2 separate regions of the Homo sapiens genome follow, and region 2 is linked to region 1. The links come from fine-mapping of genetic effects on gene expression. A gene starts in region 1. The other region holds a variant in brackets. All regions are shown on one strand. Distances are between the middles of the regions. Region 1 holds the start of IL6R (interleukin 6 receptor). Region 2 overlaps IL6R (interleukin 6 receptor).

Region 1 (5,514 bases):
TTCTTTTTTCTTTTTCTTTTCTTTTTTTTGAGAGGGAGTTTCGTTCTTCTTGCCCAGGCTGGAGTGCAGTGGTGCCATCTCGGTTCACTGCAACCTCCGCCTCCTGGGTTCAAGTGATTCTCCTGCCTCAGCCTCCTGAGTAGCTGGGACTACCGGTACGCACCACCATGCCCGGCTAATTTTTGTATTTTTAGTAGAGATGTGGTTTTACCATGTTGGTCAGGCTGGTCTCGAACTCCTGACCTCATGATCTGCCCACCTTGGCCTCCCAAAGTGCTGGAATTACAGGTGTGAGGCACCACGTCCGGCCTGGCCAGGATTAAATTTTTTCATGTGAACCACAACACTAAAACTTTGTATATTGCTGCGCTTATCTTACAAATCAGGAAATAGGGGTTCAGAGAAGTTAAATAGCTTGCTTAAGTCACACAGCCAGCAAGTGGTAAAGCTGGGATCTGCATGACTACAGAGCACACAGGCTCCCCACCAGTAGATTAGAGAGGGGGAGGTCTGCTTTGGTGCAGAGACAGGTGGGATCTGTGATGCCCGTTCTTGGTTTCAACATTCTTTTAAACTCTCCTATCTGAGCCTAGGACTTTCTGCAGCCTTCCTGTTTTAGGCTGGCAGCTCACAGTCCCTCTCTGGTTATTTTCAGGTCTGTGTGTGCCACAGAGAGGAAGGGGGCAACCACAGTGGGAACCGCTTTCCAGCCCTGCTGCAACCCCTTTTGAAATAGCAGGCGAGAGGGCTGGTGGCCTCCACTGTGCTCTTCTGTTCCTGTCTGTGGGCATGGCTAAAGCAAACAAGCTCACCCACACCAGCTCCCATCGTGCGGTGGATCAGTGCATGTGCTTGGTTCTGTCTGGCACTGCTGATGGGTGGTTCCTACAGAAAGATCCAGATGCACGGGGTCTGAGGACTGTTTCAGAAGCTCTGTCCGTCCATGCCTGGCCCTGTCCACTTGGGAGTTCCATTAGGCCATGCCTGTTCCAGCTGTCCCAGGATCTTTGATCTGGGTTAGGATTGGCCTGAAACCAAAGGTAGAAAAACACATTCTAATGAGCAGTTGCTGGTCTAGAAGCTTCTCAGCCTAAACTTTATTTCAGCATTTTTCTTTCCCTCCAGATTCAGCTATGAGGCCATCCTATCAGCTTTAGGCTCTGTGGGGGTCCTTGAGAGAGTTCCCCTCCAAGGGACGGACAGATGGTCCCCTTCAAGGTCCTTGTGGTTGCTCAAAAGCCAGGTGCTTGTTTCTTTCTTTTTTTCTCTCCTTCCTTTCCTTCCTTCCCCTCTATCCCTCCTTCCCTCCCTCCCTCCCTCCTCCCTTCCTTTTCTTTCTTTCTTTTCTTTTTTTTTTTTTCTTTCCAGACAGGGTCTCACTGTCATCCAGGCTGGAGTAGCAGCCCCCAATCACGGCTCACTGTACCCTGGATCTCCCGGACTCAAGCAATTTTCCCACCTCAGCTTCCCTAGTAGCTGGGACTATAGGTGTGTACCACCACACCCAGCTAATTTTTAAATTTTTTTATAGAAATGGGGGTCTCACTTTGTTACACAGGCTGGTCTAGAATTCCTGGACTGAAGCAATCCACCCACCCGGCTCTCCCAAAGTGTTGGGGTTACAGGCGTGAGCCACTGCCCCTGGTGTTAGTGTCTGTCTGTCAAGTCAGGAGGGCAGCCATGAACGTTCTGATGTCTACTGAGCACGTGTGGCCCAGACCGTGTGTCAGGTGTTTAGGTGCCATCCACAGAACCTTCCTAATAACCCTGGGCAGCATAGGCTTTCTTATCTCTGACAGATGAGGAAATGGAGACTCAGATTCTGAACCGAAGTCACAGACACAGTAGATGGTAGGTCTAAATGGGGACCCAGGTCTATCTGACTGCAAAGTCCAAACCGTTTCCTTGCCTCTGCTGCAGCCTGCGAGGAGCAGCTGGGCAGAAAGACTGTGCCTTTACGGTGGTGAGTCTTCCGATGCCCAAGCCTCACCCCAGACCGATGAAATCAGAATCTCTGGAGACCCGACCCAGACATTGGTGGGTTTTAGGGCTCCTGGCTGATTCCAGTGGGCAACCGGGCTACCAAGCACTGTTTTACCCTAAGGGTAAGAGGAACATCGCCTCCTCGAGGGCTCTCCAGGTGTGCCTTTCACAGCGTAATCCCGTTCACGAAACCAAAAATCAAAACTAGGCCACTGCCCACTGGTGGCTGATACGCCCTTTTCTCATCAACAGAACCGGGAGGAAGGGCTCTGGTGGGGCTGGCGGTCCCCTGTTCTCCCCGCTCAGGTGCGGCGCTGTGGCAGGAAGCCACCCCCTCGGTCGGCCGGTGCGCGGGGCTGTTGCGCCATCCGCTCCGGCTTTCGTAACCGCACCCTGGGACGGCCCAGAGACGCTCCAGCGCGAGTTCCTCAAATGTTTTCCTGCGTTGCCAGGACCGTCCGCCGCTCTGAGTCATGTGCGAGTGGGAAGTCGCACTGACACTGAGCCGGGCCAGAGGGAGAGGAGCCGAGCGCGGCGCGGGGCCGAGGGACTCGCAGTGTGTGTAGAGAGCCGGGCTCCTGCGGATGGGGGCTGCCCCCGGGGCCTGAGCCCGCCTGCCCGCCCACCGCCCCGCCCCGCCCCTGCCACCCCTGCCGCCCGGTTCCCATTAGCCTGTCCGCCTCTGCGGGACCATGGAGTGGTAGCCGAGGAGGAAGCATGCTGGCCGTCGGCTGCGCGCTGCTGGCTGCCCTGCTGGCCGCGCCGGGAGCGGCGCTGGCCCCAAGGCGCTGCCCTGCGCAGGGTAAGGGCTTCGGGCGCACCTGGAGGGCTGGGGCAGCTAGCGGCTGGGGGAAACCGCCTTGGTCACCGCAGTCTGTGGGAGGCTGGAGGGAGGAAAGGAGGTGCGACGGATCCCCTTTTCTGTGGCTGCCTTGAGGCCCCGCGGGTACCTAGCTGTGTGGTCGCGGGTAGTGGCTCTTGCGCCCCCTGCTGCGCTTGCTCCCTTGGTCCGGAGCGCTCCCCGGAATGCCCGGTGAAGCTGTGCGGGAACCCTGCGGTCTGTGTACAGGACTGTGTCCTTGCAAACCTGACTCTCGAGCTTCCTTCCCAGTGCCCCCAGGAGCCTTTACACAACCGCGTCCCAGGTTACTCTAAGGGGAGACTGCCCGAGAGGGCGCGCCCCAGCGGGGTGATGTACCCGCCTGGGGAGTCCTTTGTACCAGCGCCCCTCTTCTCCCTCTGCATTGGGGGTCCACCTCGCCTGGTCCTCCCCCCACCCCCGCGGGTGCATGTGTGGATGACAGTGCCCTGACTATGAAGGGACTGACATCACGGGCGCTGAGTCACGGATCTTCCCGCTGCACGGAGTCACTTTGGCAGCCACCAACTCTGGGAAGCCAAGTGCCCCAGTCCTGGGAATTGAGTCGGGAGGCTGGCAAGGGAGTGAGACCTCCTGGGGCTGGCACGTGCTGGACTCCCCTCTAGAAAAGAGAAGGACCCGTGAGGGAGAGGGCAGAGGCACTTACTGCTCCCGTTGACTGTAATCTGCCCCTGGCAAACCAGGCTTTTCTTGGGCTCTGGCCGCATGCCCAGCTGCGTGTCTAGTCTCTCTTCTGGAAGAGTTGGGCAACTGGCTCTCCAGAGGTTTATTTTAGGGTCCCAGTGCTTCTTTGAGGACACAGCAGAAAACTAAGGGGCAGCTGACAGGCTTCTGGAACAGCTGACAGGCTGGGGAGGCTGAAGGCTAAGACTTTCAACCACTAGATCACACTGAATTCCAGTCCTAGGTGAACACTGATCTCTCCCTTTGAGGAGGTGACTTTCTGCAACTAGAGGCTGAGCTGGAGTGTCTGAGGCTCTCTTTGCTTTTTGGATGGTTGTGGTCCTTATGATTGGAAGAAAAAAAGAAGGGATTCCATTTTCAATACACATTTATAACTCCTGCCAGTAACAGACACTGTTGATTGGGGCACCCATTCAATGTTTTCTAATCCTCCACTGTATCTACATATAACTTTGTTTGAAAGAGGAGACTGAGGTTCAGGGAGGTTGGGATGGCGGGATGGCAGGTTGTCAGGCCCCGGTGATGGAGGCCAACCCCTCCCGTGGCTCTGTGCTCCAGTGTGGTAGATGTCTAAGACTCTCAAATATAGAACTAGATCAGCAGGCAGAGCTGGGGGCATTGGGGCAAGCTGAGAGTCACTCTTGTCTGGCTGAGTGCTGGGACAGAAAAGGCTGAGGGAGGGAAGTGGAGGCCCAGGCTTGCCCATGGTGGTGTTAGAGGGATGCAAGACAGGTTCCAGGGCTCGGATGGCCTCAGGAGCAAGCAGGGCTCCCTTGGCTGCCTCTGCTGCTGTCACGCCAGCCCAAGGCTCCTGCCCCAGGGAGGTTACTGTTACTGCTGTAGTTGCCACCACCTGTTGCTCCTGAGTGGATGCTAGGCCCTTCCAGGGCAGCCAGTTACAGTCAGTTTTCCATTTCCCTGGTGCTCAGGAAGGATTAGGAGAGGTGGTCTCATGGCCTGAACAGCCCATGAAAGGCAGAACTGAGAGACTGGGGAGGAAGTGAAAGTCCTCCCAGCTCAGAAGGAAAATGCAGAGAAGTAGAAATACCCAGCCCCTCTCCCACACCCACACAGACTCAGCCCACAAACTGGAGAGTAAAAATAAAGAAATCGTACAGGAAGCATGGAGCAAATGACTGTGAGATGTTTCGCTTTAGAGAAGTGAGGAGCAGAGGGGGAGCAGAGGCTGGAGTTGGCTGAGAGGGGAAATCCGCAGGTACAGCCTGCGGGGCTCTTAGAGCCCAGAGGTTTGTTTTCCTCGGGATCAGCTGCCGCCCACACACCCTGGAGCTGCCAGGACTTCTCAGGTGTACTCGTTGTCTAAGGGCCTGGACTAGCTGGGACTTAGGCTTCTGCCGGTTCCAACACTCTGGTGCTGGAAGGCTGGACTTGGGTGACTCAAGTTCCCTCTTCCTACTGCAATGCAAGAAAATACACAAAAGAAGTATGTATACCTTTAAGTATCTCAAAGAGCTATCTCAGCTTCTGAATTTCCTTCTAGGGCACCTCTTCCTGCCCCCATTACCCACACACGTGCCTAGCCTCACCCTAAATCAGTATTTCTCAAAAGCTTAGTTCTGAGCCTAGCATCAGATCTGGTGTGTGTGCTGGGTGGGAGGGCTTTGGTAAACATGATGATTTTTGAACCCTAACCCAGATTTATTAAATAAGAACACCTAGGAGTGAGGCCTGGGGCATGTCCTTTTAAACAAACTGCCCCTTGTGATTCTTAGGCACTGTCAGGTTTGAGGACGGCTGCCTAAATGGTGTCATTGAGGAACTGAATGAAGGCCCTCCCGCTTCGGGCTCTCTGTTGCCAGAAATCTCTCCTTGCTTTGGCTTGCTGCTTGTTTATTCATTGCAGCAAACATTTCTTGAGTCGGTGTAGAGCCTGTGAGGCCTGTGTAGGATCAGCTATGCAGACTCCACCCTAAAAGGAGCCTGAAAATGGTCATGGGTAAATCCTG
Region 2 (5,000 bases), 41 kb after region 1:
TGGGGGAGGATTGCCTGAGCCCAGGAGATAGAGACCAGCCGGGCACCATAAGGAGACCCTGTCTTTACAAAAAAAAGTTAAAAAAAAATTAGTTGGGCATAGCAGTGCACACCTGTAGTCCTAGCTAAGTGGGAGGCTGAGGTGGAAGGATCACCTGAGCCCAGCAGTTGGAGGCTGCAATGAGCTATGATTGCACTACTGCACTCCAGCCTGGGCAACAGAGGGAGACCCTGTCTTAACAACAAAAAGACTCCTTAACTGCCCCCCACACCCGCCCCCCCCAAATGAGGAAGGGTGAAACCTCAAAATGAGGGGCGCTTTTGGCACCCAGACACTGTGGAGATTTGTACACACAGCCTTTTCTGTACTTGTCTCCACTAGGCTTCTCTCCACAGACCATCCCGGGTGGCATTTGGGACCCAGCTGGAGGTGAGTCATTTCTCCTCAGGAGGCTCCTCAGTGAGGTTTATTTATTTGTTTCTACACGAATAGAGGAGCAGTGATGAGCTGTCTGTTGGGTGGTTTAAAGGCTGCGAGGAAAGGTGTGAAGTAGGGTCCCCTTGCTCAGCACGCAGGAGCTGCCTGGCGCCACTGAGCCTGTGGGTCCCACGGTCTCTCCTCCCCTCTTCCTGTGGCTTTGTGGTTCATTACCACTTTAACCCCAGAAACCTGAGCCGCCAGAGGTTACTGGGCATTCTCTGGGCCACAGGCTGTGTTGGGGGTCAGGACTGAGAGTAGAAACTTTCTTCCTGAAGCATCTGTCTTGAGTATAGTATGGGGAGCCTTTAAAAAACCCTAATGACAGCTGGGCGCGGTGGCTCACACCTGTAATCTCAGTACTTTGGGAGGCTGAGGCGGGCGGATCACCAGGTCAGGAGATCAAGACCATCCTGGCTAACACGGTGAAACCCCGTCTCTACTAAAAATACAAAAAATTAGGCGGGTGTGGTGGTGGGCGCCTGTAGTCCCAGCTACTCAGGAGGCTGAGGCAGGAGAATGGCTTGAACCCAGGAGGCGGAGCTTGCAGTGAGCTGAGTTTGCGCCACAGCACTCCAGCCCAGGCGACAGAGCGAGACTCGGTCTCAAAAAAAAAAAAAGCCCTAATGACTGGGTCCCATTTCCATGGTTCTGAGGCAACAAGCAAGGTGGAGCCTTCAAGGCTCCAGACGAAGCTGACTCTGGCGGGGTTTGGAAAACTGCTGAACTGCACGAGCATCCATGGGCAGCCATATTTTCTATTTAGGGCTGCCCCATCTTCTTCTTGTTTTCTTCTTTTTTTTTTAGAGATGAGGTCTCACTATGTTACCCAGGCTGGTTTCAAACTCCTGGCCTCATGGGATTCTCCAGCCTCAGTCTCCCAAAGTGCTGGGATTACAGGTGTGAGTCCGGCCTGCCCCCATCTTCTTTGTCTTCTGATTTTAGCTTTCATTCTAGTGCCTCCATGCCCTCAGGTCATCCTTTAGATACCCTGGGCTATAAGTGTGTAACTGTCCTCTGCTGGGCTGGGAAGAACGCAAAGGAACAATAAACTGGGTCCCTCCCATGAATTCTAGGTTCAATTCAGGTCGCACTTGCTGTGCGGCCTTGAACAAGTCGCTTTCCCTCTCCGGGCCTCTGTTTCCCCTCTGTACAATTGGAAGAGTGGATGCATTCTTATACTTCCTCTGGTGCTGCTGGTGTGTGGTTTCCCCCTTACTGGTGATGGCATACTCCAGGAATTCTGGAAACCCTCCCTGACGCCGAAGCAGGGTCACCCTCTCCCCGCCTCCTTGCTAGTCCTTACTCCTGGCCCAGCGAGGCTCGTGATTTTTGTTTAAACCATTCTGTGGAATTTTAGAATTCTTGATGGAAAAATGATGAGCTGACAAGAAAATGTTTTGAAATCCAGAGCATTCCACTCACTGCCTGTTACGGTTAAGGCCCAGGCTTTCGCTTGGATACTTAGCCTCCTCTTGCCTTGGGGTTTCCGCAGAAACACTGTTCCCGTGCAG[G/C]GGGAGGGAGCCGTGAGGGTGCCTGGTCCACATCCCTGCTGCTGCAATGTGTACTAAACCCATACAGGCAAATGAATATTTATTTGTTATATATTTTTTATTGCAAAAAGGTGCATAGAAGGAAATTGAAATAGTGCTTATCTCTGGTGATGTGTATCTTTCCATTTTCTTCTTCCTGTGTGCAAATATATAGTATTATGATATATACTGTGTTACACAATAATCATAAAAATATATTTCTTTAGAAAGTTTGAATCAAAATACATAGAATTTTTCTTGTCTTGCATTCTTCATACAGCATTATGTCATGTCTTCAATGTTTTTCTAAAATATTTTTGGCCAGACGTGGTGGCACACGCCTGTAGTCCCAGATACTTGGGAAGCTGAGATGGGAGGATCACTGAAGCCCAGAAGTTAAAGCTACAGTGAGCCATCATCATGCCACTGCACTCCAGCCTGGCGACGGAGCGAGACCCTGTCTCAAAAAATATATAATAATTGGCCAGGCACGGTAGCTCATGCCTGTAATCCTAGCACTTTGGGAGGCCAAAGCGGATAGATCACCTGAGGTCAGGAGTTCAAGACCAGCCTGGCCAATATGGTGAAACCCTGTCTCTACTAAAAATACAAAAATTAGCTGGGTGTGGTGGTGGGCGCCTATAATCCCAACTACTTGGGAGGCTGAGGAAGAAGAATCGCTTGAACCCAGTAGGTGGAGGTTGCAGTGAGCCGAGATTATGCCACTTCACTCCAGCCTGGGCAAAAGAGTGAAACTCCATCTCAAAAAAAAAAAAAAAAATATATATATATATATATATATACACACACACACACACACACACACACATATATATATACACACATACATATATATACACATACATATATATACACATACACATATATATATATACACATACATATATATATATAAAATAAATTTTAAAAGTTTCTGCATTATGTAGTTATGTCATAATTTCTACAGCTAGTCCCTTACGGTTGGATATTTGGTTATTTCCAGCATGCTGTTTTTTGTTTTGTTTTGTTTTGTTTTGTTTTGTTTTGTTTTGTTTTTGAGACGGAGTTTTGCTCTTATTGCCCATGCTGGAGTGCAATGGCATGATCTCGGCTCACTGCAACCTCCGCCTCCCGGGTTCAAACGATTCTCCTGCCTCAGCCTCCCGAGTAGCTGGGATTACAGGCATGTGCCAGCACACCCAGCTAATTTTGTATTTTTAGTAGAGACAGGGTTTCTCCATGTTGGTCAGGGTGGTCTCGAACTCCTAACCTCAGGTGATCTACCCATCCTCCCAAAGTGCTGGGATGACAGACGTGAGCCACCGCGCCCAGCCCATGCTGTTCTTTTAAATAACATTGAGATGAACTTTTTTTTTCTGATGCTGAAGCCCCTGAGACAGGACTCCAGGGCCCATGAATCACTAATAATGAGCCTTTCTTCTGTCCGCAGAATCCAGGAGTCCTCCAGCTGAGAACGAGGTGTCCACCCCCATGCAGGTGAGCTCCTGTTCTTGTAAAAGGGTCAGGGCTGCAGCACCTCGTGTTTAGGAGTGTGGGCTGATGCCAGACCGAATTTGGTTTAAATCCAGTTCTGTCACTAGTAGAAATGTGGTCGTGGTGAGTTACCTGTGCTTTTCAAACCTCTGTGAAAGGGAATCATAGAAATTATCTTGTCCCAGGACTGTAAGGAGTGGAGCAGCGCTGGCCTGGCGTGCAGAACTGCTCTGCGTCTAGCAGCTGCTATTTCATCTCTGAGCTTTTTGGACAACGCTAATGGCTTAGCTTGAGATTGGATTCTGTTTATCTGCATCCTTCCCCTGTGGACTCTTGGTGACATAATTTGCTGGAAAGAGGATTACCTCTGAAGCTGCTTAACAAATTCCTTGAGTAATCCAATTTCCTATCCAACTATATCTCCTCCTGTGGCCCTTAATTCCCTAAATGCTAAGCTGGGAGTCATAGCCACTTCTGGAGCTGTGCGGCACAGGGAAGGAGCCTGGGGCTCTTGAACCTTATCTGTGTTCCATGTAGGAACAGCTGCAGGTGAAGCCCATACCCATGGGGCTAGAGTGCTCCCAACACGGGTTCTGGGGAAACTGACACCGACTGAGGACTGGCCACATCCTGCTAAACTGTGAGCCTTGCATTTGCTGTTTCATTGGCTCCTTATGTTAACATTGCAAGGGAGTGCTTGTAAGGGCTTTTTTTTTTTTTTTTTTTTTTTTTTTTTGAGACGGAGTCTCGCTCTGTCGCCCAGGTGGGACTGCGGACTGCAGTGGCGCAATCTTGGCTCACTGCAAGCTCCGTTTCCCGGGTTCACGCCATTCTCCTGCCTCAGCCTCCCGAGTAGCTGGGACTACAGGCGCCCGCGACCGCGCCTGGCTAATTTTTTTTGTATTTTTAGTAGAGACGGGGTTTCACCTTGTTAGCCAGGATGGTCTCGATCTCCTGACCTCATGATCCACCCGCCTCGGCCTCCCAAAGTGCTGGGATTACACGCGTGAGCCACCGCGCCCGGCCTTGTAGGGCTTCTTAACGTGAGTTAAGTCTGAGGCCAGGGCCGGGCACAGGGGCTCACACCTGTAATCCCAGCACTTTGGGAGGCTGAGGCAGGCAGATCACCTGAGGTCAGGAGTTCAAGACCATCCTGACCAACATGGAGAAACCCTTTCTCTACTGAAATACAAAATTAGCTGGGTGTGGTGGCGCATGCCTGTAATCCCAGCTATTTGATAGGCTGAGGCAGGAGAATCGCTTGAACCTGGGAGGCGGAGGTTGCAGTGAGCCGAGATCATGCCATTGCACTCCAGCTTGGGCAACAAGAGTGAAACTCCATTTCACAAAAAAACAAACAAAAAAAAAGAAGTCTGTCCAAGGTGACATAGCTCGTAAGTGGTGGAACCAGCATTCCAGTCATGGTAGTACCTGCATCCTTGCATCGGACCTGTAAGGACAACAGCTGCTTCAGTGTATCCACTGAGCATCTTCTCT

What was found. PIP is the estimated chance that this variant, and not a neighbour inherited with it, causes the effect. A credible set is the group of variants that fine-mapping cannot tell apart.
Region 2: its variant is the best candidate, but not a certain one, in a credible set for the expression of IL6R in whole blood (TOPMed, PIP 0.56).

What each region holds. Positions count from the first base shown.
Region 1 is chr1:154,402,930-154,408,443 of GRCh38, forward strand. It overlaps IL6R (interleukin 6 receptor), which reads left to right and starts at 2,414. Exons shown (of 10, transcript NM_000565.4): 1 at 2,414-2,785. The coding sequence starts at 2,701. IL6R-AS1 (IL6R antisense RNA 1) reads right to left here and starts at 3,635. Exons shown (of 2, transcript NR_147855.1): 1 at 3,510-3,635; 2 at 1-1,028. RefSeq lists silencers at 2,219-2,348, 2,549-2,698 and an enhancer at 2,938-3,544.
Region 2 is chr1:154,444,666-154,449,665 of GRCh38, forward strand. IL6R (interleukin 6 receptor) reads left to right here. Exons shown (of 10, transcript NM_000565.4): 7 at 3,460-3,506. Among named protein-coding and RNA genes, the nearest start is that of IL6R-AS1, 41 kb to the left of the region's middle. RefSeq lists an enhancer at 620-1,119. The variant G/C (reference allele first, on the strand shown) is at 1,992.